3 linked regions of the Homo sapiens genome follow. The protein of the gene in region 2 interacts with the protein of the main gene of each other region in a biochemical or structural test. Each region holds a gene or a part of one and is shown on either strand. Other genes may lie near its edges. The genes, in order: RPL26, SAYSD1 and UFM1.

Evidence for each region.
Region 1: the proteins of SAYSD1 (region 2) and RPL26 form a complex in vitro, tested with the Homo sapiens proteins (one study listed by BioGRID).
Region 3: the proteins of SAYSD1 (region 2) and UFM1 form a complex in vitro, tested with the Homo sapiens proteins (one study listed by BioGRID).

Annotation. Positions count from the first base shown.
Region 1 is NC_000017.11:8,380,163-8,387,096, forward strand, and holds the start of RPL26 (large ribosomal subunit protein uL24), read right to left. Parts: upstream 3,032-6,934; 5' UTR 2,995-3,031; exon of another isoform or gene 2,619-2,994; intron 2,154-2,618; 5' UTR 2,149-2,153; coding exon 1,981-2,148; intron 1-1,980. UniProt on the Homo sapiens protein: Component of the large ribosomal subunit. The ribosome is a large ribonucleoprotein complex responsible for the synthesis of proteins in the cell.
Region 2 is NC_000006.12:39,112,121-39,119,431, forward strand, and holds the start of SAYSD1 (SAYSvFN domain-containing protein 1), read right to left. Parts: upstream 3,067-7,311; 5' UTR 2,970-3,066; coding exon 2,763-2,969; intron 1,601-2,762; exon of another isoform or gene 1-1,600. UniProt on the Homo sapiens protein: Ufmylation 'reader' component of a translocation-associated quality control pathway, a mechanism that takes place when a ribosome has stalled during translation, and which is required to degrade clogged substrates.
Region 3 is NC_000013.11:38,345,661-38,352,914, reverse strand, and holds the start of UFM1 (ubiquitin-fold modifier 1), read right to left. Parts: upstream 3,065-7,254; 5' UTR 2,996-3,064; coding exon 2,994-2,995; intron 2,917-2,993; coding exon 2,860-2,916; exon of another isoform or gene 2,801-2,859; coding exon of another isoform or gene 2,688-2,800; intron 1-2,687. UniProt on the Homo sapiens protein: Ubiquitin-like modifier which can be covalently attached via an isopeptide bond to lysine residues of substrate proteins as a monomer or a lysine-linked polymer.

The sequences.
Region 1 (6,934 bases), on a different chromosome or scaffold from region 2:
ACCTAGTGCTAGTCAGAGGGCAGCAACAAATGCTTAACGGAACAAACCAATTCTTTCCCAAAGGTTAGTGGACAGGAATCCCAGTGGTCCTCAGTTTGTGAGGACAAGTATTTCTGAACAGATTCTTCTTCCCAGTTTGTGACTTTCTTGCATTGGTATGTATTGAAAACAGAGATGACAGTTTTCAAGGTCTACTGGCAAGTTTAGCACTACTGCAGCAGGGACCAACGGCTGTTCTCAACCCACACTGCTTGTTTGGGAACCCATTTCATCTTTTTGAAATAGGCATGAAAAAATATTGATGGTGTGTATGTAAATGGCTTTAGAGACTGCCTGAATTCTTTAATCACTAGCTGCACTACAGATTACACCTAAGGGTCATTTATAGAAACCTTCACCTAAATAGATGCAACAAATTATTTACCTGTAAGTGCAAACGATAACGTGACTGTGCTTCAGTTACAGCTCCTGAATCTAGATTGGGAGCAATTCTGTTTACTGGTCCTCAACTGCCTCTTCAATGACCAAACATTGAAACCTCCTTTCCAAAAATTGCCAACAGTGAGAAAATTACAGCAGTTAAAGAGAACTGACCTAACTCCCATCTTGCTTCTAACCTCCAAGATGTCCTTGTTCATTCCTGGGCATAGACCAAACTAACTTTGGGAGGAACTTAGTCTACAGGTTAACTTTGAAACAAAGATGCTAACAGTGCTTTCCTGAAACAAACCCCCTTCTTGCCTGGGTACCAGACTGCCTTTGTAGGCTAACAAATTAGCTGCAAGACTAGAAATTACAGTTTAGGCAGCTAGAGGCTTCCCCAATTGCTCCTAGGGATAACACACTGTAAAGCCTAAGATTTGTGTGATTTTTTTTTTTCAGACCCTGCACTGATGGATCCGCTGGTGCCACCCAGATCAATAAACTGGCTCATCTGATCTTGTGGCCCCCATCCAGGAACCAACTCAGAGCAAGAAGACAGCTTCAACTCCCTATGCCTTCATCTCTGATACGACCTGTCAACACGCCCCACTCCCTGGCCCCCTACCTGCCAAATTATCCTTAAAAAAACTCCCATCCCTAAATTTTCCGGGAGAATGATTTGAGTAGTTAACTCTGGTCTCTCGTTCTGGCTCTGCATGAATTAAACTCTTTCTCTATTGCAATTCCTGTCTAGATAAATCGGCTCTATCTGGACAGCAGGCAAAATGAGCCTGTTGGGTAGTCACAATATATTGATAAAAGGATTAATCCCAAAGCAATGTTCTGATTATGTCACCTAATTATGGTCACATCATCTGACGTTTGAGGAAACTGATTTTCGGGCAGGATCCCCAGGAGTTGGAGACCAATCTGGGCAGTAAAGTGAGACCCCTCTCTACAGAAACAAAAAAAAGGTCCTACATGGGAGCATCACTTGAGCCCACAAGAGCCATGACCACGCAACTGCACTCCAGTCTGGGTAAGAGTGAGACCCCATCTCAGCCGGGCGCGGTGGCTCACGCCTGTAATCCCAGCACTTTGGGAGGCTGAGGCGGGCTGATCACCTGACGCCATGAGTTCGAGACCACCCTGCCCAACATGGTGAAACCCCGCCTCTACTAAAAACACAAAAATTAGCCGAGCCGTGGTGGCGGGCGCTTGTAATCCCAGCTACTCGGGAGGCTGAGGCAGGAGAATCGCCTGAACCCGGGAGGCGAAGGTTGCAGTGAGCTGAGATGGCACCACTGCACTCCAGCCTGGGGGGGACAAGAGCGAGACTTCATCTCAAAAAAAAAAAAAAAAAAGATTTTCACCAAATAATACAATTAAAAACTGAAAAGCAGCTTACTTACTGTTTTTTGGTCCCTGGCTCAACTCATCTTGCCACTCTTTGGGAGCAAGAGTCTCAGAAGCATCTTTCTCAGGAATGCAATCTCTCTTCTAAGCTAAGTGCGTAAAATATCCATCAAGACAACGAGAACAAGTAGGGATACACACCTGAACTTCATCATCCTTTCGGATGGGCATGGATCGCACGTTGTACTTCTGTCTCAGCTCTTTGGAAAGAGGGGAAGACATAATCTTCCTTCGAATGTGGGAAGGTGCATTGAAATGCCTTTTGCGATTCTTGCTTCGGTCGGAAGTCACAAAGGGATTAAACTTCATTTTGGCTAAATAAAAAGTTAAAAAGACTCTTAAATGACCAAAATCTCATCCAGCTTCCAAACAAATAACCGCAATGATTTTATCTTGATAGTCTAGAATGATCATAGGCAGTGTCATGTTGTGCAACTTCAACAAAAACTGTTTGATCGGAAGGGCCTATCAACCGAAGCTCGAAACTTTTTATTTTTTGTTTTATTCGGGTGTTTTCTGTATATGTTTACGGACTAAAGACTTTTGCATCAAAAACACTTGTCCTAGTTATAAGACCTTTTAGTTACACTCTCCCAACTCCTCAAGTAGTGCCTGAGGAAATCAAGACTGGACTTACATCTCTGCTGAGCAGACCGACAACGCAATTCTCTTAACTATAACCTCACGTTTTAGAAGGTACAATCAACGTTCATCTTCTACAGGCTTAAGAGTGAATACGTATAGCCCCGCCAAAATGAATAAGGCCCACCAACCCGAACCTGGAAAAGCCTGCACACGTCTCGGGTCCTAAAAGCCTCCCAGTGGGCAAGTGTGGTCTGGAAATTCCGTGAAGACTTTACCGAGAAGTTACTTCGAGACCATTCTCTAGGAAACGACACTACCCAGACTCCAGTCTATTTCCACAGGCTCCCTTCCCTCAGCTCGTTTTCGAGTTCCCAAATCCCCGGTCCCTCCATCCATCTCCGGCCCGGCGGCCCTTGATTTAAGAAAGCAACAGATAAAAAACCATCCCAGTCTCTCCTTCCTGGCTGCTACTCGGCCGACAAGAGACTCTCGGGGTCCCCGCGGTCGGAAGCCACCATGCCCAAGAACGGATGGCTGCTGATTACACCCGCTTGCCCGCCGAATCCTTACCCGCTCCCGCTTCGGTGATGGCCGCAAAAGGGAAGAGAACTACACGCTGCTTCCGGTTCTGTAAGTTTACCAAAGATCTCGCGAGACCTATGTCTCTCGGAGCGAGAGGGGCGCGGAGTTTGAGCGAGGGGAGTAAACTGGGAAATAAATTTATGGCTAGTGTCACCTAGTGGCTAGGAGGGGAACTGCGAGGGATTGCAAAACTCCCCTCCTCCAGGTCCTAGTGTCTCCCTTCCGAGACCCGGGTGCTGCCGCTGAATCCTCTGGGAAGGGTAGTCCCGGGGCTATTGGCTAAGGCTGCTCAGGGTCCAACTGCCCCTGGGGGTGATGAAGGAACGAGCGGCCCCAGGAGACCGCCCAGGAGACCCGCTGGTACCTTCACTCCCAGGTGCCGGGGCGGGGGCCGGCACCCCTTAGCCGGGGAAGCGCAGGCCCTGCTTCTGGCCGCCAGGAGGCGCGGGGACGCCGGCCGGCCGGTCGCCTGGGTCCCTGCACTCACCGTCCCCTCCCGCCCGTGGCGTGGGCGCGGCCAGCGTGCCGGTACTTTAACGAGCTCCACCGCGACGCCGGCCACCGCCCCTGCACCTGGGCGTCTGCTGACCGCACAGCAGGGCCCGCCAGAGATTCAGTTCTGGGTGGTGAGGGGCCTTGCGAGGACCAGGGCCACCGATCGCCGCCTGCCCCCGCGGAAATAGGTCCAAGGCCGCGTTTCCAAGGCGCCCCCAGTGCTGTGGGAGGTGCTGGTCCAGACCACGCTTCGAAGGAGCCAGGCGAGAGGAAGCCTCTCGGTGCGGGGAGCTGCGCGGGTTTCTAAATGCTCGGCCTGTTTGCGTCCAGTTCAGGACCAGACGGAAGCCGTGCGCTCCCTGCAAATGGTTTCTTTTCTTCTTCTTCGTGTGTGTGTGTGTGTGTGTGTGTGTGTGTGTGTGTGTGTGTGTGTGTGTGTGTGTGTGTGTGTGTCTTTTTCTTCTTTTTGAGACAGTTTCGCTCTTGTTGCTCAGGCTGGAGCGCACTGGCACGATCTCCACTCACTGCAACCTCCGCCTCCCGGGTTCTCCTGCCTCAGCCTCCTGAGTAGCTGGGATTACAGGCGCCCGCCACCACGCCCGGCTAATTTTTGTAGTTTTAGTAGAGACGAGGGTTCACCATGTTGGCCAGGCTGGTCTCGAACTCCCGACCTCAGGCAATCCGCCCGCCTCAGCCTCCCAAAGTGCTGGGATTACAGGCGTGAGCCACCGCGCCCGGCCCCTGCAAATGGTTTCTGAGGCAGCGGCAGTGCAGCAGGCACCGGCGCTGAACGGCTTCTGCTGAATGAATGACACGGGTGTCACAGTGACAGAGGACAGGCGTTTCACAAGAATACCGAAGACGTAGTGAGCCTTCTGAGTGTGGGGACGCTCTTCTCTACACTTTACATCATGAATTCTTTTAATCCACAAAATGGCTCTGTTGTTGCTGGTATTATTGTCCCCATTTTACAGATTGGGCAACTCAGCCACAGAGAAATGAGAGGAACTTGGTGCAAGGTTATACAGGACCCATAAGTCACAGCAGAACCCGTGCAGGCTGGCTCCCCGGCCTCTTCTGGGAACTGTATATGGCCCCAATTTGTGGGAACCTCATAGTCAGGACTGCCCAGAGGATGGTCAGCAACGAACATGCGTTTTCATGATTTAAAAATAGTTGTGTTCTTAAATATGCTGTGAAGGAAGTAGCCCTAGATTTTATTCATCACTGAAAAATTCAGCAAGAATTCCTCTGCTGCGACTCTTTTCAACAAATATTTATGAGGCTTCTTTCCTGGGCCAGCCCTGAAACTAGACACTGGCGATGCAAAATAGGTCAAAGTTTGTGCCTTCAGGAAGTTTACTGTCTACAAGAAAAGATAGACAAGGGAATCAACAGCCACGAGACCACAGGAAAAGTGCTCGCTGAGCCAGCTGCCCTTGCTGTCTCTGTGATTCAGGAGCAGAAGGGAGCTCTGGGGTCAGGGAAGACTTCTGAGGTGAGGTCAGCATTGACTGGAATTGGAAGAATGTTAGCATTCGCTCCACAAGGCAGTAGGAATTGCTTGAAGGAAGGCTTGGAGGTGTGAAGCAGCGTGACTCGTGTTTTCCAGGAACCAGGTCCTTGCCGCTGAAGAGAGGCATTTAGACGGGAGCCCAGGGGCTCTAGGGCTGAGCTGAGTGTGATTTGGGTCTGGAAGTCCTAGGGAGCTGCCGAAGGTGCCTGCCTTCCTTCCTTGCCTTGCCTTTCTGGCCTTCACGTTGTCACTCCTTCTCTTTCTTCCTACTGTCCTTACTAGTTTCCCAACTCCCTTCCTGTTCGGGTGTCCCCATCGTCTTCCTGTCTTCCCACCAAGGCCCTCTCTGTTTCCTCAGCCCTCACATCCTCTGCTGACACCCTACCCTCCCAGGCCTTCCTTTCTTTCTCCCTCTGTTCAATACCGAGTCTCAAAATGAAACCTTCAGGCCGGGCATGGTGGCTCACGCCTGTAATCCTAGCACTTTGGGAGGCCGAGGCAGGCAGACTTGAGGTCAGAAGTTAAGGCCAGAAGTTTAAGACCAGCCTGGCCAGCATGGCGAAACCCCATCTCTACTAAAAAAAAAAAAAATTAGCCGGGCGTGGCGGTGTGCACCTGTAATCCCAGCTACTCGGGAGGCTGAGGCAGGAGAATCGCATGAACTTGGGAGGCGGAGCTTGCAGTGAGTGGAGATCATGCCACTGCACTTCAGCCTGGGAGACAGAGCAAGACTCTGTCTCAAAAAAAAAAAAAATTAAACCTTCAGCCCACCATCCATACAGCATGACACTTGATACAATGTGAAAATTTGCAGGGTACAAATTGTCCATACAGATGCAAATGGCCAGTAGCCTAGTTAGAACGTCCCTATCTGTTTTTTTTTGTTTTTTGTTTTTTTTTTGAGGCGGAGTCTCGCTCTGTCACCCAGGCTGGAGTACAGTGGCGCAATATCTGCTCACTGCAACCTCTGCCTCCTGGGTTCAAGCAATTCTCCTGCCTCAGCCTTCTGAGTAGCTGAGATTACAGGCATGAGCCACTACTCCCGGCTGGCTAATTTTTTTATTTTTGGTAGAGATGGGGTTTCACCACATTGGCCAGGATGGTCTCGAACTCCAGACCTCAAGTGATCTGCCTGCCTCGGCCTCCCAAAGTGCCGGGATTACAGGCGTGAGCTACCACGCCTGGCCGTCCCTTTCTCTCTTTTTTTTTTTTTTGAGACGGAGTCTGGCTCTGTCACCCAGGCTGGAGTGCAGTGGCGCTATCTCGGCTCACTGCAAGCTCTGCCTCCCGGGTTCACGCCATTCTCCTGCCTCAGCCTCCCGAGTAGCTGGGACCACAGGCTCCCGCCACCATGCCCGGCTAATTTCTTTTTGTATTTTTAGTAGAGACGGGGTTTCACCGTGTTAGCCAGGATGGTCTCGATCTCCTGACCTCGTGATCCGCCCGCCTTGGCGTCCCAAAGTGCTGGGATTACAGGCGTGAGCCACCGTGCCCGGCCCCCTTTCTCTTAACGTGTCTGTTGGGTGTCTTGCCTTCACCCTGCAGCCTAGTCTGACTGCACTCTCTCTCCCTCGCTGCCCACATTCCTCTTCCTGGATTTGAAAAAGGTCCCTTTAGGATCATTTTGAAGCCTTCAGACATAGCAAAGCAGGGATTATAGCTAGATTCCACACCCAGAGTTGATTAGACTTAACTTTTTTCTAAACACCAAGCTGTCAGGTTTATTCATTCATTCACTCATTCTCCAAATATTTCTCCAGCTCTTACTGTTTACTAAATTCTGTGTCAGGCACTGGAGATACCAAGATCTATAAGATCTAGCCTCCCCGGAAGGAGCACTTCGTTAAGGAGGAGACAGATGTGACCAGATAAGCATAATCAAGTGTCACCGATGGATGCTTTGTGGGGGATGGGGGG
Region 2 (7,311 bases):
AGATATTGCCTTTATTGTGTATGTAAGTATACACAATAAAAAATAGGAACCTCGAAAGGGAAAAAGGACATTGAAATTGTTAAAGAAATGAATGATGACCTTCAAGAGACTATAAAACTGAATGGAAAAACATTAACAAAAACAGTATCCCAGTATGGTCAACAGCTTAACGACCTCAAAACTGAGAATACAATGCTCAAGTCTAAACTGGAGAAGGAAAATCAAAACAAGGAAAGACTGGAAGCTGAAGTTGAGTCATTCCATGCTAGACTGGCTGCTGCTATAAGTGAGTGTGATCAAAGTGTGAAAACAAAAAGAGACCTAGAACTTGCTTTACAGAGAGCACAAGACGTTTCTTTACAAGAAAGAAAATGAGTTCTGATATTTCTGAACTAAAAGATAATAATGAGTTTTTAACTGAGCAACTTTCCGAAGCTCGAATTCAATACCCTAAAAAGTAAACTCCATGACACAAGAAATTCTCTCAGAGAAAAGGTTTTGGTTTTATAAAGTGTACAAAAGGACCTAAGCCAAGTAAATCCTTTGGAAAGTGGGACTACGTAGAGGAGAGAATATCTCAACTACAACATGAAAATCTGTTGCTTCAACAACTAGATGGTGCTCATAAGAAAGGGGATAATGAACAAAAGGTAATTAATATCCAAGGATGCTGTCTTGAGAGTGAAAAGGAAGGTCTTCTGCTAGAAGGGAAAAATAAGGAATTAATCAATGAATGCAATCATTTAAAAGACTGTTTCAGTATGAAAAAGAGAAAGCAGAAGGAGAAGTAAGTATCAAAAAAGATAAATATTTTCAAACTTCCAGAAGGAAAATTTAAAATATTTGGCTACGGCTACATGTTGAACCTAGTTGAATATAAAAATTAATAGACAAAAAATGTGTTTACCATACTGTATAATTCCATTTACATGAAACATCCGGAAAAGACAAATGTATAGATAGAAAGCAGACTGACATTTGTGCGGGGCTGGGGTTGGAAATGGGTAGTAACTGCTAATGTGCAAGAGGGGTCTTCTTGGAGTGATAGAGACGTTCTAAAGTTGCAGTGATGGTTGCATGACTCAATAAATTTACTAAAAATCTTTGAACTGTATGTTAAAAGAGATAAATTCTGTAGTATGTAAACCTTATTTCAATAAAGCTGTTTCAATTAAAAAAACAAAAATTAAAAATAATTTAAAAAAATAGAATGCTAAAGAAATCTCTGACAGGCCACAGTGTGCCATCAAAATTGTCTGACATGAATTGTAAATTAGACTTTTTCTTTTCTAAACTAGAGGCAGAATCTGAAGAAAAAAAATTAAATGAGAATTTTCACACCAGAGCAAACCCAGAAATGATAAGTCAATGAAAATGAGCTTAAGGCAGAGTCCCTTATGGAAAAACAGAGCAATTAACAAGAAACTGGAGGTCCAGCATTTCCTCTCATCCTTTTGTCTGGCAATCAGCGTTTGGGTTCTCAATAATGGAAGTTTTTCTCTGAATTCAGTTTCTCTGGGTCCACCTCAATGATCTCATTCCTTTGGAAATGAGACATACAGTCAAAAGTTCATTGCATGGGTTAGACATTGTTTTTTAACTGCAGAGAGAAAAAGAATAAGGGAAATGGTTTCTAAAATCTTAAGCAAGTGTTGTACTTAGAAAGTTCTAGTCAACAATAAAATTATCCAAAGACAATTAACACAAACTGCACACAAGGAAATGGATTGTCTGAACTCTGCTGCGCTCTTTTCACCTTTCTGCAAGTCAGCTGGAATCCTGTATATCACTGAGAATATCAAATCAAAATTGAGTAATAGGTTCAGTAATTTTTAAAAATTCCCTCAAATCAAATGTTGTGCAATAATAGATGAACTTACAGGAAATAATTTTAAGGTGAGCAAGGTACACTTTTCTTCCAGTATATTTTCATTTTAAAAGGAATTTTTTAGTTCTTATTGCACTTATGAGGAACAAAGCACTGGGCACAAATTGTTACAAAGCACTCATCCCTTGATATGTTTTGTCTTGTATTTCCACATAGACATTTCAACCTCACTGCAAGCCACCTTACCATTTTACTGAGTTAAAACTAAATGAAAACACAAAAGGATGCAAATTAAATTCATCTGCAAAACAAGAGATTACCAAAACAATTAAATGTGAAAAGGTTATCATACTAAATCACTTTTTTTTGTTTGTGTCTTGAACATTCACTATGGAACTGGAATAAGCTTCTGCCACTACCGGCAGTTACAGCTACCACACTTTGGTAAATTCTGTATTCAAACGCATTTCTAAGTCACAGGCTATCTGGGCTACTAGCTGCATGTGCCCCAGGTGCGAATCAAATGAAGTTTTAATTACTGCTACTTGTGATCGGTATCCAATTAGACCTTTTACCCTCCTCCATTAGCAGAGGGCTGTGGCTCAACTTGGTTGTGGAGAGGTTTCCCAATGCCACAGGGCGTCACGATAACTCAATTCGGAGTGAATAATTTAAGAGCAGAGGTGCTTTCTCCCAGGACCCTCGACTCTCGCTGGAATCAGGACCTGCGTGGGTCGCGGGCTGGAAAGAAAATGTCAAAACTGGTAACAGTGCTGACACGTGTGGCCGGAGATGAGCGGTCCGGCCCTCGATCAGGATGGGGGGCCAGTAGCCCCGCCTCCGGCAGCTAGGGCCACACCCCCGGCAGCTAGGGCCGCGCCCTCGACTGTGGCTCCGAGGCCAGGTCCTAGGGCCGAAGTTTCCATCGTCTCACCTGAACTAGGCCGGGCTGGGCCCGGGCACTCGCGGGCCTAGGTTTCCATACCAGGAACCGCTTTAGCCAGCCTGGGGCTGCCTTTAGAGTCGCTGCTGCTTCCGCCTTCTCTCCTGGGGTTTGTGCGCCCTGACTGGCAGCAGGGGGTTGGGCCGCCAGACCCGCCCGTTTCCGCGCCGCCCGAAACTCAGCTAACCGCTGTTCCATGGCGCGCGCCTCGCGTCCGTTGGCCGATAAGGGAGCGCGCGCCCGCAGGCCGCACAGCAGTTGCCTCCGCTCGGCCCGCGCCGGCCGCCGTGCGCCTGCGTGGCAGAAGCCCCTGCTGAGCATGCGCACTGGTGTGACCCGCGTCTCCTCCGTTTGTGAAGTCTGGCGGGTCGCGTGTATACTCAGCCGTTCTCTCTTCACAGGCACGTGGACACAGTGTCACCTCCTCAAGCCAAGTCTAAAGCACAGGGCTGCCCCATTGCCCTCTCCCAAAGGCCGCTCTGCCTTGCTGCATCTCACTTAAGGGCTCGAGGCCCCACTGATCCAGCGTCCTGTATTCGGGATCTCTGTTGCTGGGCCCCAATGAACAGCGCCACAGTGAGAAGATGGTTCCAGGGGTTAGGAGAGGCCCGTGATCTCTACGACATTCCAGCGTCAGAGGAATAACAGGCTACATCTTACCCTTTTTCTCTTATCAAGGAAAGGGTATGCCAATCTTAGTACCTGGAGGGTGACTTTCTCACTGCTCACAAAGCAGGCTGTGCAGCTCCATCATTGGTCTTGCCACGTTGGGAAATTATCTCGTTTTGTGTCTAGATACGTCAGAACCTTAAAAAAACCAACAACAAAAACTTTTATTGGGGTGCAACATAAAATACACATCTTAAGAATATGACTCAGTAGATTTGCTCTTATGTATGCACCTGTGTAACTACCACCCAGATGGAGAGAAAGAACATTTCTGTACTCTGGGAGTTTCCTTGTGCCCTCTCCCAATCAGTACCCTCCCAAAAGGACACAGTTCAGGTTAGGGGCTGTTTTATACGTTCTTAAAGCTGTAAGCATCTAGCTAAGTGTCACTTACATAATTAAGACTCAAATATTTGTTGGATCTGGCTGAGGGTGACTCGAGAAATTAGACAAATTAGAACAGAGTCATCCATTCATTTAACAGACGTTTACCTAGGGCCTGCTCTGTCTAAAGTCACAGGCACTGGGGATGCTGGGATGAAAGGAAAAAACAAACAAAAACCTGTTTTCTTAGAGCTTACACTCCAAATGGAAATACAGACAATAAACAAATGTGTATCTACATATTTCATGTCATATCAGGTACTGATAAGTGCTGTGAAGAAAAGTGAAGCAAAGTAGGCAATGGTGGAGGTATTAGAGAAGACCTCCCTGAAGGTTTGTCATTTGGGCATAGACTTAAATGAGTGAGGTATGTAGATATCTGAACAGGAGTGTTTCAGTCAGAGGAACAAGTGCAAAGGTCCCGAGGCCTCAAATAGCACGCTTGACTTGTTCACAGAACATCAGGGAGGCTGTTATGACTGGATTGGAAGGAGGGAGAGGGAGGCAGGGAGGGAGGGAGGGAAGGAGGGAAGGAGGGAGAGAGGGGGAGAGAGGGAGGGAGGGAGGGAGGAAAGAGTGACAGAAAATAAAGATGCCAGGGGCAAGATCGTGCATGTAAGGCCCTGTAGGCCATGGTGAAGACTAAGTGTGGTGGGAAGCAGTTAGTGGATTTTGAGCAGGAGATGATATGATATGACATATTTTTAAAGGATTACACTGGCTGATGGAGGTGGGACCCTGGAAGATTGCAAGAATAGAAGAAGGGAAACTAGTTAGGAATAAATATGGTAGAATGAGAAACTGTAGTAGTTTGAGCTAGAGTGGTAGTGATGGAGGTCACGAGAATTGGTCAGATTCTGAATGTATTTTGAAGACCTGAGCCAACATGGTGTGAGACGGATTGGATGTGGAATGTGAGGAAAAAAGGTATCAAGGATGACAGGGCCAGCCATCGTGGCTCACGCCTATAATCCCAGCACTTTGGGAGGCCAAGGCAGGGGGATCGCTTGAACCTAGGAGTTCAAGACCAGCCTGGGGAACATAGCAAGACCTCATCGCTATTAAAAAAAAAAAAAAAAAAAAAGGATGACAGGTTTCTTCCATTACTACCCCACTCCTCCTGCCCCCCCATATACATACACACATGCCCTGAGCAACCAGGCAAATGATGCTGGGGCCCTCTATTGAAATGAGGGCACACTGGGAGGAGAGAATTACAGAATAAACACTGGAAGTTTTGTTTTGGACATACAAAGAACTTGGGATGCCTATTGGATATCCAAAAAATAGGCAGTTAGATAGTGAAAATGATTTGAGGGGAAAGTCAGGACCGGAGGCACACACTGGGAGTCATCAGCATGTGTATATTTAAAGCTGTAAGACTAGATAAGATCAAACAGTGAGTGTGGATAAGAAGAGATTTGAGGGCTGAGCCCTGAGTGGATTAGAGATGGTTTGTAAGAGAAAAGAATGGGATTATTACACCACAATGTCCTCTCTTTGAGAAACCACAAGAGGAAATTTCTTGCCCATTTTGGTGTCAGGAGTATGTCTGCTTCTCTTGAGAGATGGGATTCTTTAACCGATTTTGTCTCCCACTTGATAATGACTCTAAGACCTTAGGCCCGCATCTTGCAGGTGTATAGAATTAAGGCATACAATTTGTGGGCGGTTGCAGTCAGGGTCCCTGACAGGAAACGTGGCACCTTCCAAAGGGTGAAGTAAGAAGGGCTTAGTGAAGGAGTAAGTTACAAAGGTGTGGCAGGATGAAGGAAGCCAGCAAGGGATGGTTCACAGGAAGTGCTACCTGTCTCTAGGCCCAAAGCATCAGGAGGACAGAGCAGTTATCAGAACCCAGTGAGCCCTGTAGCTATAGGAGAAGCAAGGAGACACAGGAGCCCTTCAGGGAGCATAGAACAGGTAGAGAAGGGTGGAAAGAGGATCAGAAGAGGCAAACAGAACATCCAGGCCAGAGCTAATGTGGTTCCTGCTCTGTCTTGCTTTGGAAACCTTATTTTCTTTTTGCTTTGTTTTATTTATTATGAATTTACTTTTACTTGGTGCTTTGTAAGCCTCTTTAAATCCTTTTTGGAAGAGGTTAAAAGAATAGAAAAAAGAAAAGATGAAAGAGACCATCATGAAGAACAACTCCTGCCAAGCCAACTTTATTTCCTCTTTGGACGGGATTATGAGACTAGTAAATAAGAAGGGTCCCCAAAATGTGCTTAATGTGTGAATTTCATTAATTTTTATTATGAAATATTTTGTAAATGCCACATTTTACATATATATAATGTATATGCCATATACATAACATATATAATGTGTATGTGTCATACATATAAGTTATAAATAAAATACCCACATGATATGGTTTGGATCTGTGTCCCTGCCCAAATTTCATGTCAAATTGTAATCCCCAGTGTGGAGGTGCGGCCTGGTGAGATTGGATCATGAGTTTTTTTCTAATGGTTTAGCACCATCCTCCTAGTGCTGTCTTGTGATAGAGTTCTCACTAGATCTGGTTGTGTAAAAGTGTGTGGCATGGCTGGGTGCAGTGTCTCACGCCTGTAATCCCAGCACTTTGGGAGGCCAAGGCAGGTGGATCACTTGAGACAAGGGGTTTGAGACCAGCCTGGCCAACATGGTGAAACCTTGTCTCTACTAAAAACATAAAAATTAGCTGGGCATGGTGGCACACGCCTGTAATCCTAGCTACTCGGGAGACTGAGGCATGAGAATTGGGTGAACCCAGGAGGTGGAGGTTGCCGTGAGGTGAGATCGTGCCACTACACTCCAGCCCGGGCAACAGAGCGAGACCCTGTCTTGGAAAAAAAAAAAATTGTGGCACTTTCCTGCCCCTTCTCTCTTCCTCCTGCTCCAGCCATGTAAGACCTGCATGCTTTCCCTTCACCTTCTGCCATGATTATAAGTTTCCTGAGGCCTCCCCAGCTATGCTTCCTATATAGCCTGCAGAACTGTGAACCAATTAAACCTCTTTATAAATTACCCAGTCTCAGGTGTTTCTTCATAGCAATGCAAGAATGCACTAATACAGGCCTTGTTATAGAATTGAGTCATTGGCCCGATTCTATATTCCTATCTGTATCCACGCCGTAAAAGGCAGAGTAGACTTCCCCATTCCTTGACTGTAAACTCAGCCATGCAGATTGCTTTGGCCAAATGGGATGATGGCAGAAACTACGTGAGCAGGAACTTGAAGTGTGTTTGTCCTGTTAAATAAATTCTCTTAATATTCCACATTTCCATGAGATGAACTTGCAACAGCTAGCCAGCTAATCCAAGAATAATGAAAGACATCTAGGTTGTGGTCACCTGGCTGACCCAGAGACTTGCAGTTTAAAGCTGAGCTGCCCAACTGAGCACAGCCTCAAATAGCTAACCCCCAGCTTACCCTAAAATGTATGAAAACAAATGCTTATTTTACATAACTGAAATTTTGCAGTTGCATGTTACACAGCAAATG
Region 3 (7,254 bases), on a different chromosome or scaffold from region 2:
TCTGAGATTCATTTTCCTAAAACTCTGCATCAATTGGAGAACTTCTAAACCCTTGGAGTTCAATTCACTTTTAAATCGGAGACTTGGAAATGTCCTTACAATATACCTAGATGTCATACTGATGCTCATTAAAATAAGTTTCTATCTGTATATTAAGTTGGTGAGTGTCCACAGACAAGCCAATAAAAACAAATCAAAAATGAAAACATCTTTTAATGCAAGTTCTAACTGGCAGAAAATTAGAAAAAATGAGAGTTACAGTGACTCCACAGATCTTATCTAGATTTAAAGTTGTATTTGCCAGTCATTTCATAAAATCGGTACTTAAATTATCCCAGTGTTTTGAATAAATTTACATTAATGAGAATTTTTGAAGTAAATTACTGGCATCATTTGTTTTTTAAATAAATATATAAACAAAATAATAACATAAATTGGTAAGAATTATTATAAAGACTAAGTCCACAGGTAACTCAAGAAGGGCGAGATTAACTCTGTGGACAATTAGAAAAATCTTTGGCCAGAAGGGGTGGCTCACGCCTATAATCCCAGAACTTTGGGAGGCCGAGGTGGGCAGATCACGAGGTCAGGAGATGGAAACCATCCTGGCTAACACAGTGACACCCCGTCTCTACTAAAAATACAAAAAATTAGCTGGGCAAGGTGGCACACACCTGTGGTCCCAGCTATTTGGGAGGCTGAGGAAGGAGAAGAACTGGGAAGGCGGGCGTTGCAGTGAGCCAAGATCGTGCCACTGCACTCCAACCTGGGCAACAGAGCGAGACTTTGTTTCACAAAAAAAAAAAAAAAAAGAAAGAAAGAAAAAAAAACAAACTTCATAGAGGTGAGATTTTTATTACTATAAAATATGTTGTGATCATGAGACTGCATTCTAAGCACAGAAAAGAACATGTGTAAAGGAAGCAAAGATTAAAAGGGCAAGCTTGTCAAGTACCCAAGTACTAGTTACCATGTACTTTGAAAAGAAAATATAGCACAGATACCCTTGTACACACATTTACACGTTATGTGAATTTTCCACACACACATCCTTATACACATACACACACAACTACACACGCACACATACATACTAAACAACAGTTGTACCTACTAAATTCATTCAGTCACCACATATTAACTGAACTGGTACAATGTTCCAGGCTCTTAATGTTATTGTCCTACTCTATCATTTTCTTCCTTCCTTCTCACGCTCTCTTTCGAGTACATTTGCATATTGATGAGAATAATCCAGTAGAAAGGGAAAAACCAATCATGAGGAGAGAGGGGGCACTGGACTCCATCTACTTTAACCTTGACAAGACTGAAATAGATGGGAACTATAGCTCAAGTGGTTTTTCATAGGAGTGAAGTCATTTTTTCCATTCTAACAGGATGGGAAATTAACGGATTTATCCATGTAGTGGTAGGTTTACATTGGTGTAAAGATGATAGAATTTCCCTCTGATGGCTTGATAGCAAGGGAGACAGCAGCTGTGGAAAGTTTGAAATTTTTAAACAATCTTTTCTGAGAATAAGGAGGAAAATGAGCAAACTTGAAGAATGTATTAAGTACTAGGTACTATTAATTGTAGTCATGAATTTAATGTAAACCCTCCAGTCTGTTATTTTCTCCAGGGGCAGTCAGCTATGTACAGATAATACAAACAGCTGGTTTCAGAGTTGGTGTTTCACTAACCAAAATATGCTGAGAGGAGAGACAGGGCCACCAGAGTTGAGGGTGTTTGCATGAGAATGATTTAAAGGTGGACCAATGGACTCTTAACTATATAAGGAGTAAGGTAAGGAATAGAAGTGGGGATAGCTACAGATAAAAAATCACTGTGATTAATGGATTAAATGAAACGTTGTAGATGAGAAATTATAGTAAATCATGTAGGAGAGAATGTATTTATCCATAAGAGTGCCTGTAAACGACATCTCAGAGATGGAGCAATTATTGGAATCTTAAGGTTCTAGGCTGCAACCATGAACACCTGAGATAAAGTGTAACAGGGATATTTTGGAGATGAAAAGATCAAGGGAGGAAAAGGCTGAGAGGTTGTACGGATCATGGATTGGTAAATCATTGAAATTTATCAGTCAGCTAGGTAGGCCAAGGTACTAATTAATTATGCAAAAAATTCTATTGTAATCCTGTTCTTTGCTACATTTCATGCTACTTCCAACTGCAATAACCTCAAGAGTGTTTACTTAAAATCTATCACTCAACTGCGAAGGATAAGTAAAGGCCCCACATGGATAAACTATCCCCTATCTGCATTTCCCATTCCTACCAAATACTCTATTAAATCCCAGCATAGGAAGGGTGTGATCTGAGTCTCATTACTTTGTGATGCCCGACTGCTGAGTTACTCATACACAACGAAACTCAGAAGCCGCGGAATAACAAATGTTCAAGTAATTTCAAAGTCTTGACTATCAAGATGGAATGTCTTCCTTAACTTCCTCAACCAGCTGGCCAAAGCGGTGAAACGCTTTTCTAATATCCAGCAGATGGGGACTGTTTAAGAATCCCAACAAATTACCAGAACCTGGTCCACCTGTCCTCCCGCGCCACCTGCCCACCAAATGAATTCCGAGGGGAGGTCACTAATCAGAAACACACCCACACCCTCGTGACGGGGCCAAGCTGCCAAGCTGACACTTAGCGAGCAAGTACGGACCTCTCCTCGCAGGCTCCGGTGGGAAAGGCTCCTGGAAGGGCGCGAGCCAGGAAAGTAGATGAAGTGAAGAGATGAAGACTGCGTGGGGTAGTTGTTGGAAAAGCTCGGATCATCCCCAACCCAGCCCCGTCTTGTCCGGCCCCAAAAGGCCCATCTCGGCCGAGCTACTCACACTTTGTACGGCAGCCGTGGGTCCGACGTCAGCGTGATCTTAAAGGAAACCTTCGACCTGAGGAAAAGAGCGGGAGAGAGTCAGGGTCGGGCAGCTGGACCAGGAATTATGGCAGTCGGTAAGCAAACACTTACATGGTGGTGCCGGAATGAATCCAGAACACACGACAACTCCGCGGGGGTAGCACGACTTCCTCTAGTGTGCTGGGGACCGCCCCGCTCCACTCACGTCCACGTCTCCCTCTGCAATCTGGGGACCTCCGAAGTTGTTGCTATCCAACGCACTGCCTGAAAATTGGCCCTAAGAGCTCATGCTAGATGGCGCTTTTAAATTACAAATATCTTGTGCTTTTGCGTTTATATATCTAAGAAAAAAGTATGGATTATATTTATAAGATATCTTTCTAACTTTGGTAATTTGCTACCATATTTTTAGTCAGGCAGAATAAGCGTGGGCATAGAGCGTAGGACCCTAGGTTCCAGTTGGCAGGTTGGGGCGGAAGTAAGGGTATGGGGTAGTCGGATGAAGAGCGAGATGGACTTGGGGCGAAGCTCGGGGCGAGGCCGGGGGCGGGGCTGGGGCGGACGCGCTCTAAAGTTTCTAAGGCAACCTGAGCGCGGAAAAGCTTAATTGGTGCTCCAGAAGCAGGAATTGTAACACTGCTTTATCATTAGTTTTCTTCCGTCTTTCCAGCAAACCAATCCTGTTATATCCTTTACATTTCTCATAGTTTCTCCTTCACGCTTTACTTTCCGATACTGATTTATAACTATTGAATTTCGGTTAAGTAAGAGAGCTATCAAGTACGAATTATCTATGCCAAGACTCCCGCTGGGGTGGGTGAGAAAAAATGAGGTTTCTACGTTTGGGGAACGTGGCGTCTAGTTGGGAAGACACATCTATGAACAGGAGATTTCAGTAATTTGTTATATGGTCTAATTAAACCAGTGCGCTGAGTTGCTAATCACTGACCACATTTATTCAATTTAACAACCAACTTTGAACCCTTTCTATTTGCCCGGCGCTAAGCTAAACTCTGGGGAATCCAAGATGAGTAAGGCAGGTAGGCGTCAACTCTCTAGGATCTAACATCCTGTGTAGTGATGACGGAAGAAAATTGTCCTCTAAACTTTATTACAGATCTAAACCTCTGTGTTTGGAAAATATGCGTCTGTCTCACAATGACTGAAATGCCCTTTTAAAACATTAGCATGAATAGACAAAGGAGGAAGCAGGTAGGCATTAAAATAATGGGGCAATCTAGTTGATCTTTAGAATATGCATCAGATTCTTAAGGAGAGATACTTAAGAGAGGAACCAGGAAGGAACTGTAGTAGGGATAATGGAGATCAAATTCATCTTTACAATAATTTTGCAGCCAACTGATCTTCTATGGTGACATTTCCCAGTGGAGAGAGTTCTGGTTCTGAGTAGGCAAGTAAGACTCCAACATTCTCATGACAGCCATCCTCACTTTTTAAAATAATGGTCTTACCATATATGTAGATGAAGCCAAATATTGATTGACAGATACAGGGATCAACAGTTACAGCCTTAATAGCTGAAACTATTCAATTAGTGGGTGTGACTAAAACTTGTGAGAATAGTAATAAGGATAAAACTGTGATTGTGTCTACCTATTGTCAGCTAGCCAAATAATAATGAAAGAGATGAGTGTACATATTTACAGTCTATAAGACTACATATAATATATTTTGAAACAAAATTTGCATCCTGCTATTTATAGTTTGGTTTCTGCTCATGAATCAAAACGTGGCAAAATCCTAAAGAGAAAAATGGATATTAATCAGAGAGCTTTTATTGTATGTATAAAAAGTGGTGAAAACAGAATTCAGTCCCACAGTGTGACTTTAGTACTCAGATTCTGCTGCTTCAGAAAATACATTTGTATAATATATCAAAATAACATCTCTTGAGATATTAAAAAGCAGCTGTTTCTAAATATTTAGAATTCTTTTTCACCTCAGTCCCCAACTCTGCTTCTCATGTTTGTCTCCTCAGAGTCACAGCATGATTTCTGCAGCCTCCTGAGTTTTATTTTGCTTAGGACAAGAAAGAAATTATAAATGGATTTATTTATAATCAATTTTTTTAACTTTGTGAAGGGATTTGCAATTGGAAAATTTTATAGCAAAACAAGGACCTTCTCTTTTACTGAAAAGTTAAAATGTTGAAGTACGTTTAATGGCTGTAATCAGAAGCAAACTCTGGAGCAAATTTTTGGAGATAATTGGCAATGGAACATTTTAAGACAACAAATAGCATAAATGGCCTAATGTGTTTTGGAAAAGATCCAATTAGTATCATGTAGAGGCAGAAATGACTGTAGAAGTGCACAGTGTGACCATGTTAGACCTCATTAAATGTCAATGAAGCATACCAATATTCTATTTGCAAATGCATATAAATTTCCCATTATTAGAAGAAAGCCAGAAGGAAATTAAATTTACATAAGGACTAAAAAGATTTGCTTCCATAGTCATAGAAATTCTTCTGACTAGTTATTTTTATAGCCAACTTTATTTTTTATATTCCTCTGGATGCCAAAAAAAATTCTTTCATTTTCACCATAATTTGATTGTATTTACGATTATGACTAGAACCATCTGATAGTCAAATTATGTAATCTTGAAACATCTGCACCTGAATAAATCTTAAGGTGTTCTATTCCAAATACTTTATATTACAGGGAACAAATTATAGACTGATCAATTAATAATTGACTGGTATTTTAATAGTACTTTAATTTGTTCATTTTTTTCTATTGCCTTTTCTCCCCTCAAAATCCACTAAAAGGCATTGATATAATTGAAGCAATGATAATAATGACTCAAAATTCATTAAGATTTATTTTTGGCTGGTATTAACCACTTTGTACAAATCAATGACAAAATATAGACTTTAAACTTTGATGCCTTGGCTATAAGTCATAATTTAGTGACAAGAAGCCTTATACAAAGAGGAGAGAGTGGATTTGGTTACAGAAGTACTTGGGAATATGTAAATGCTGTGTTATTTTTCAAGGTAAGGACTAGAAGGTTAGAGAATATTTACATTCCTTTGAGTCAAAAAGAACAATGAAACCCAGGTGAGATCGGAGCCTAGCAAGTCCAGGCAAGCCCTTACAGAAGACTATAGCTCTAAATGTGCTACATTTGATTGTTACAGTTACATATTTTTCCCAAATATTTTCTAAAATTCAGTGAGAAAAAGAAATGACTTTTCTACGAAGCTCATTGACTACAATGTTTCTAAATTTGAGGCTTAATCACAAAACGTGGAATATTTTAACCACAGAATTTGTAAAATATCTTTATTACAAAATGGCATTTTGAACTGTGAAAAACAGGAATTTAACAGTCTGGTATAATTAAATTTTCTCTCTAAATATTGTGCGAATTCTTCATTTAATGGAAACATTACTTTTAGAAAAACTGAAGTAGCCTCTGACAAATCCATTTCAACCATGAGTTTTTTTTTTCCACATTTACATATTTTTATCCTTCCACCAGCTAAATGAGGTAAATATTAATGTTCTATTTTTACTTTTCTCTATTAACTTAAGGTTTTCTGATTCAAGTTGAGATTTTTAGATCCATTTGTAGTTTCTCCCCACATGACTCTTCTTGCAGTTTTATGTAGAATACAGGCTTCAGAGGACTGTGACGTCTGGTCCTTTGTCATCATCTCTCCATATTCTCAGTGATATTTGTGTCCACTCCAAACATCTGAGACACATGACATCTCATTTTTGTCTGGTGATATCACTCCTTTTTGTGTGCTGGCAAGACGACTTTAGGACTGTTTGTTGTCTCTAAGGGATGTAAGAAAAGTGCCCTCTTGTACCACCCTGTGGCTATAGGGAACCCAGAAGAGCTCAGACATCTTTGACTAAAGATAACATGTTTTCTCCCTAGAATGAAGGGAACTTTGTTGTCTTCCTGGGCTTCAATGGGAGCAGGAACTGGGCATCTTTTCTCTGATTCTGAAATTCCCTAGAGATTGTTTCCCTAGGGATGAAGGAATAGGGCCATATTTCGGGGAGACCTTACAATGTTTATCATTTTCTTCTCCTCCTTTCTCCAGCCCAGAGTATTTTTTTATAGACTTTATTTTTTAGAGCAGTTTTAGGTTCACAGCAAAATTGAGCAGATAAAGATACTTCCTATCCCTATATATTCATAGCCTCTCACATTTTCAACATCCTTCAGCAGAGTGGTACGTTTATTACGGATGATGAGCCCACATTGACACATCATTATCACCCAGAGCCCATAGTTCACATTAGGGTTAACTCTTGGTGTTGTACATTTTATGGGTTTAGACAAATATACATTGACATGTATCTACCATTATAGTATCATACAGAATAGT